2 linked regions of the Homo sapiens genome follow. The protein of the gene in region 1 purifies or fractionates together with the protein of each later gene. This does not show direct contact. Each region holds a gene or a part of one and is shown in the gene's direction. Other genes may lie near its edges.

Region 1 (3,500 bases):
CTGCTTGGCCCTGAGGGCTTTATTTTGGTCTGGCTTAGGAAGATTGGGTTGCTAATGTTTTTGTTGTTATTGTTGTTGTTGTTTTGAGATGGAATCTTGCTCTGTGGCCCAGGCTGGAGTGCAGTGGCATGAGCTCAGTTCACCACAACCTCTGCCTCCTGGTTTAAGCAATTCTGGTGCCTCAGCTTCCCAAATAGCTGAAACTACAGGCATGTTCCACCACGCCTGGCTGATTCTTGTATCTTTAGTAGAGATGGAGTTTCACCACGTTGGCCAGGCTGGTCTTGAACTCCTGACCTCAAGTGATCTGCCTGTCTCGGCCTCTCAAAGTGCTGGGATTACAGGCATGAGCCACAAGCCCAGCCGCTAGTGTTATTTTTACTGACCTCAGGTGATAAAAGTGTGACTGGCTCTATGGTGGCCGTGGTGGGGGGTCAGGGAGCTGAGCTGTGACTCCTAGGTTCCCTCTGGGTTCAGTATCCAGTAAAGAGATGTGTCAGCCAACTCTGGGGAGCTGTTTTCTCTTGCAGGGCTGATGAAGGTATTCAGCCGGATCCTTACTATGGTCTGAAGTACATTGGGGTTGGTAAAGGAGGCGCTCTTGAGTTGCATGGACAGAAAAAGCTCTCCTGGACATTTCTGAACAAGACCCTTCACCCAGGTGGCATGGCAGAAGGAGGCTATTTTTTTGAAAGGAGCTGGGGCCACCGTGGAGTTATTGTTCATGTCATCGACCCCAAATCAGGCACAGTCATCCATTCTGACCGGTAAGGTTTGCCTTCACTTAAACGTATACTCATTCATTCAAAGTACACTTATTGAGTGTGCTCCCTGGCCAGGTGCCGCTCTAGGTGCTGGGAGAACAGCAGTGAATGAAACAGATGGGAATCCCTGCCTTCAAGGAGTTCTGTCCTTCCCCAGGCATTGGCCTAATGATGCTGAATTGAAGAGGAGCAAGCATGCACACATATGTACATACAACGTAGTTTCAGATTGTGATAATTGGTAGTAAGGGGGAAAAAAGACAGAGTGAGATGCTAGAGTGTAACTAGGGAAGACCACTTTGGATAGGGTGGTCAGGGAAAGGCAGTGTAAGGATGCAACATTTGAGCTGAGAAATGAAGGGTGAGGATATGTCAGGGAAAGAGTGTTCAAGACAGACAGCAAGTGCAGAAGGCCGGAGGTATGAAAGGGCATGACATTCTCAAACGATGGAAAGGCCACCAGAGTTGTGGGAGCACAGCGAGTGGCGGAAGAGCAGCATGCAATCACATGGGAGTTACAAATGGGGGCGGGACAGGACCTCGGAGGCTGCGGTAAGGACGTGGGTTTTCTTCTAAGTGGGATGCAAAGTCACTGAAAGTCTTTAAGAAGAGCATGATCTGATTTAAAAGTACCTTCTGGCTGTAGAGAATGGTTTTAATTGTGAGGCAAAAGCAAAGATGGTGCAGGGGGTTAGGAAGCTTCTGCTGTGGTCTAGGCAAGACATGGCAGTGATGAGGACCCAGAAGGAACGGCGGCTAGTGGATGTACCTGAGAGATGTTTGGAAGGCAGCATGGGCAGGTGTAAGCTGGCAGATGCTGCCAAGGCTGGACCTGCCCTGCAGTCCCAGGAGCTCTCATCCTGGCCCTTTAGAGGGAAGGACAGAGGTGGGGTAGACAAACAGAGACAGAGCTACCCTGGGGCTGCTGGGGAAGGGAGACAGGCATTCCTCAAGAACAGGGCCCGAGCTGTGGGTGTCACCATGAAGGCAGCAGGAGCCAGCTACGGTCAGGGGCAGGGTGGGCAGGAGCTGAAGTGCTTGCTGGTGCTCACAGACACCCAACCTTGCCGGTAAACATTAGTACCTATAACAGTCACTGGACTTTCTCCCCGTAAAACACTGTTCATCACTTTACCTGTCAAATATACTTCAATCTTCATCAAAATTCTGTGAGGCAAGTTCTGTTATTATCTACCTTGTAGAGATGAAAGCACTGAGGCTCACAGGGCTAAATTTACTCAGTCACAAGGTTGGAAAGTGTTGGAGATGGGATTCAAACCCAGGTGTGCCTGTATCGCCTCCACGGATAACGGCTGACACCTTGATTGACACAAAGTATGTCAGGGAGCCCCTGCCTTCACACTAGAGAGGATGTCCTCTTCAATTGTGTGCTGATCTTTTTGGTGCTGTTTCTTAAGTACAACAGTGTTACTTGAAGAGATCCAACTTAAAGTTTATTTACTGACCTGTTAGTGAGAAGTGATCTGGACAGATGCTGTAGAGATGGCAAGGACAGAATGTCTGCTTGTTCCGAATATCTTTTGCTTAAAGTATATGTTGGAGATCTCAATAATCTGATAGATGAATGTGTATGAGTAAAGATAATAAGCGCATGCACACACATACACACACACACACACACACACACATACACACACACAAGTAAATGCAGGCAAAAGTCATCTGAGAAGGTTACTTAGAGAAGCAGGAACTTAGGTCAGCTTTTGAAAGGTAGTAGGTGCTTGATCAGGTACAGAAAAGGTGGGAAGGAATGATGAAGACAGGAGTGGGCGGGTGAGGTGGTCACTGGGCACTGAGAAGCACTAGGCTTGCAGCAGGAGCTTCCTGGGGAGGGTCAGTGGAGGGTGCGAGGTTAGGTGGGGCTGGACCAGATTGTGCCAACAGTTGGAAACAAGTGTGAGGACCCAGGAGCAGCTATCCAGCTACCACCGGTACCAACATTGTTTTTCTTTTCCAAAAACCTCCTTAGATTACTTTCCCAGATTCATTTTAGAACTATTTTCCTTAAGTTCCAAGACATACTCTTTAGGAATTTCTACTGTAATTGCATAAAATCTTTATCCTTACATGGGGAAGAGTTGGAATCATTACAAAATTGTGTCTTTGCTTTGTAAATTATTCTCACCAGGGGTATAGATTTTGTGTGTGTGATTTGTATTTCATGGATATTTTACGTGTATGAGGGCAGGTTATCAGTCAATTTGGAGATTATTAGTTCTTGCTATTATAAGAGATCTGCTGTCTAACATTGCAAAATACTGGATAGTACACTTAAAATTTTAAGAGGGTAGATCTCAAGGTAAGTGTTCTTACCACAATAAAGTAAAATAATTTTTAAAAAATAAACAGGAGAAAATAGCAATGCAACAACATTTACAATACTCAAATGTTATATGACTGCTACTGTGTGAATCAGAGATTACATTTTAATGATTCTAAGATGCATTATCATAAGAATCATTAACAGGTCAATAAATAAACTTTAAGTTGGATCTCTGCAAGTAACTCTGTGCAAGCTGCTCTAGGGGTGGGAGAAGGGATTTGGGATAGTCTCCATGTCATTTCCAAGAATTCTGGGATTGGTGTTTTACTCGGATCAGAGATATAAATTCCTAATGCCCTAGCTATCTGAACTATCTCCTAAAGTCAGGCTCTTCCAAGAGGCATGATCCTCTGCCTCCAGGATGAAAGGGGAACATCAAAAGGCCTAGACCT
Region 2 (3,500 bases), on another chromosome or scaffold:
ATTAGTACTGACTCCATGTGGCAGCGGACAAGGAGACACTCTCCATTGTCTTCCAGGGAAGCAGAGGGTTAGAGCTGTCTTCTTTATGCAAGTGTGTGAGGTCTCTGCGGTGAGTGTTGGCTTGTCTCAGATCTGGACAGACTGAGCTTACAAGGGCTGGGCCTAGGTCTTCTCACTCTTGCTCAAATGCCAGCACATAGAAGGAATTCAGGGCATGCCTAGTGAATGAATGAATTCATTGAATCATTTTCTTGGGGAGAAGTGGTGCTTCTTACATAGGACTAGGCTGCCAGCCTCAAGCCTCATGGTAAGGACGAGTCAGCATCTCTGATGTAGACATGGCTCAGAGTCGGGGGAAACAGTGCCCAGAGGAGCTGGGGGACTAGGGCCGCAGTCCTTACGGACTCTGACTCCACTGCAGTTTAACCTTTTTGGATCTCCGTGTTCTCAGTCCTAAATGGGTGGTGACCATGTCACCTCCTAGGAAAGCAAGGGGCTGGACCAGTGATGGTTTGAAGTCCTTTGTGTGGTCTGAGGGAGATGTCAGTGTCCTGACTTGGGGGAGCCTGGGCCTTTGCTCACAGCAGTCGCTGTCAGTGTTCCTTCCTGATCTCAGCTGTGGCAGTGTGGCTGCAGCTACTCCTAGGGCTCCTGCCACTCCTCAGTGGCCCACAACCAAAGCCTTCCTTCCTGTCTGTGCTTCAGATCTGCATGTTGACGTTCGAACACGAGATGGAAAAGGCCTTTGCCTTCCAGGCAAGCCAGGACAAAGTGTGCAGTATCTGCATGGAAGTGATCCTGGAGAAGGCCTCTGCTTCTGAGAGGAGATTTGGGATTCTCTCCAATTGCAATCACACGTACTGTTTGTCCTGCATCCGGCAGTGGCGGTGTGCCAAACAGTTTGAAAACCCAATCATTAAGTAAGTACAGCCAGGGGTCTTAGCTGTGGGAGCTAGGAGAATGTTTGATTTGAGACTTTATTCCGTCCACTTTTAAGCCCTCCGTTACCCTCAAGAGTAACTGGTGAGTTCTGGCCCCTGGCTGCATGAACTTCAGCAAGTCATTTACTCTTCCTGAGCCTAAGTGCCTGTTCCTATAAAAGATGGGCAACAATTCCTACCAAGCTTTCTGGGTGTTGGGGAGGAACTCAGCAAAGATGATCTGTGTAAAAAGGTGTTAAATGGCACTGACCTGTTTTCATCTCCTAGCCTTGTGTTTGAAATCCAGTAGTACCTGCCTGTAGCCCAGTTGCCTGTTAATCATTTTGAGCTTCGTTTTTTCCCCCCACCAAAAACGAAAATAGGGTTATTTGAGGATGAAGTGGAATAATGCATGTAAAACATTCTGCATGATGCCTGGCACATGGGATGTGCTCAATGTGGCCAACATAGGAGTCTCAAATTCTCCAGCAGGACAGGGGAAGAGCTGGCATGTGGAGAGGTTACTGCACGCGTTCTACTGTTCAGAACTCCACATCTGTCCGCTCATCTCATTCCCTCAAAGACCCTCCTCAGTTACAGATTAGGAAACAGGCCTGGGGTGCGGGGGTCAAGTAATTTGCCTAAAATCGTGTGGTGAAACAACTGCTCTATTGAGATAAAAGCCCACAATTTAACTCACCACTCATCCGCTTTCTGTCTCTACAGAGTTGCCTATTCTGGACACTTCTTATAAATGGAATCATAGAATTTGGGGCCTTTTGTGCCTGGCCCCTTTCACTGAGCATAGTGTTGTCAGAGTTCATCCCGACTGTAGCATGTGCCAGAGTCCCCTTCTCCTGGCGGAATATGTTCCATTGTATGGACGCAGCACATTTCCCTTATCCATTCCTCAGCTAGTGGACATTTAGGCTGTTTTAACTTTGCAACTATTATGAATAATGCTGCTGTCAACATTTGTGAACACAGCATGTGGGCATGTGTTTTCATTTCTCTTGGGTATACACCTGGGCGTGGGATTGCTAGGTTTTATGGTATAATAACTCTACATTAAACTGTTGGAGAATCTGCCAGACTCTGTTCAAAGTGGCTGCACCCTTTTACATTCTCACCAGCAATGTATGAGGGTTATTTCATCTGTCTTTTTTGTTGAGGAAACCATATATGTGTGTGTGTGTGTGTGTGTGTGTGTGTGTGTGTGTGTGTATTTTTTTTGCTTTAAGTTCTGGGGTACATGTGCAGAATGTGTAGCTTTGTTACATGGGTATCCATGTGCCACGGTGGTTTTCTGCACCTCTCAACCCATCACCTAGGTTTTCAGCCATGCATGCATTAGCTGTTTGTGCTGATGTTCTCCCTCCCCTTGCCCCTGCACCGACAGGCCCCGGTGTGTGATGTTCCCCCACATGTGTCCATGTGTTCTCATTGGGAAACCCTATTTTGTTAATAGTAAATAAGGTTCTTGGATGATTGTGATTTCATCTTTTGGAATTTCTGGTGAAGGAAATGCCTGTAGTGGTGAGGCAGTTGAGCAAGAGGTTTAGCAGAGAGTGTGCCCAGGCTTCGTAACATGACTTCTCCCTTAGTAATCTAATTCTTATTTCAGGTCTTGTCCAGAATGCCGTGTGATATCAGAGTTTGTAATTCCAAGTGTGTATTGGGTGGAAGATCAGAATAAAAAGAACGAGTTGATTGAAGCTTTCAAACAGGGGATGGGGTAAGTGCTTTTGAGTTTCGACGTGCCCCTGCTGCCTGCCTGGCTCTGCTGTCAGCCCGTGTCCTCGTTCTCCTTCCCAGGAGTGTGGTCTTAGGGGCCTCTTCCTCTCTTCCTTCTCTCAGGCACCATGCTGGGCTCTGGGATGCAGCAATGAGCAAGGACATGGTGATGTGGACCTGTTTAGTTTTGGTGTTTTTTTTTTTTTTTTTTTTTTTTCGGTGAGATAGGGTCTCACTCTGTTGCCCAGGCTGGAGTGCAGTGGTGCAATCTCAGCTCACTGCAGCCTCAGCCTCCTGGGCTCAAGCAGGAGCCTCTTGAGTAGCTGGGGCCACCAGTAGTGTGCGCCACCATGCCCAGCTAATTGGCTAATTTTTTTTGGTAGAGACAAGGTTTCGCCATGTAGCCCAGGCTGGTCTTGAACTCCTAGGCTCAAGTGATCCTCCTGCCTCGGCCTCCCAAAGTGCTGGGATTACAGGCATGAGCCACCGTGCCCGGCCTCAAATGTTCCTCTTTATCCTGGTTGTCAGCATGTTGATATTTTGCCTAGGAGTGGAGTGGTTTTTCTCTACGCTTATGTCACTCCCCAAGATGAGCGAAATTTTAGCTATTGTTTCATTAACTTTTTTTCTGTCTTGTTTTTTTCTTTTCCTGCTGGGACTCTACTTCCGTTTATGATAGTTTTTTTATATTGTTCATAGATCTCTGGGGATATTCATTCTTTTTCAATCTTTTTTTCTTTTCATCTCCTTGAACATAGTTGTAGCAGCTACTTTGAAATCCTTGTTATCTTGAAGTTGACCTCTGTTGTCTTTTAAGAATGGATCACATTTTCCTGATTCTTCGTA

Evidence for each region. Proteins that work in one complex are often made in the same cells at the same time.
Region 2: the proteins of CEMIP (region 1) and MKRN2 purify together in Homo sapiens (affinity purification with mass spectrometry, with the first as the bait; one study listed by BioGRID). This does not show direct contact.

Annotation. Positions count from the first base shown.
Region 1 is NC_000015.10:80,880,370-80,883,869, forward strand, and holds part of CEMIP (cell migration-inducing and hyaluronan-binding protein precursor), read left to right. Parts: intron 1-530; coding exon 531-767; intron 768-3,500. UniProt on the Homo sapiens protein: Mediates depolymerization of hyaluronic acid (HA) via the cell membrane-associated clathrin-coated pit endocytic pathway. Binds to hyaluronic acid.
Region 2 is NC_000003.12:12,574,087-12,577,586, forward strand, and holds part of MKRN2 (E3 ubiquitin-protein ligase makorin-2), read left to right. Parts: intron 1-705; coding exon 706-920; intron 921-2,544; coding exon 2,545-2,655; intron 2,656-3,500. UniProt on the Homo sapiens protein: E3 ubiquitin ligase catalyzing the covalent attachment of ubiquitin moieties onto substrate proteins.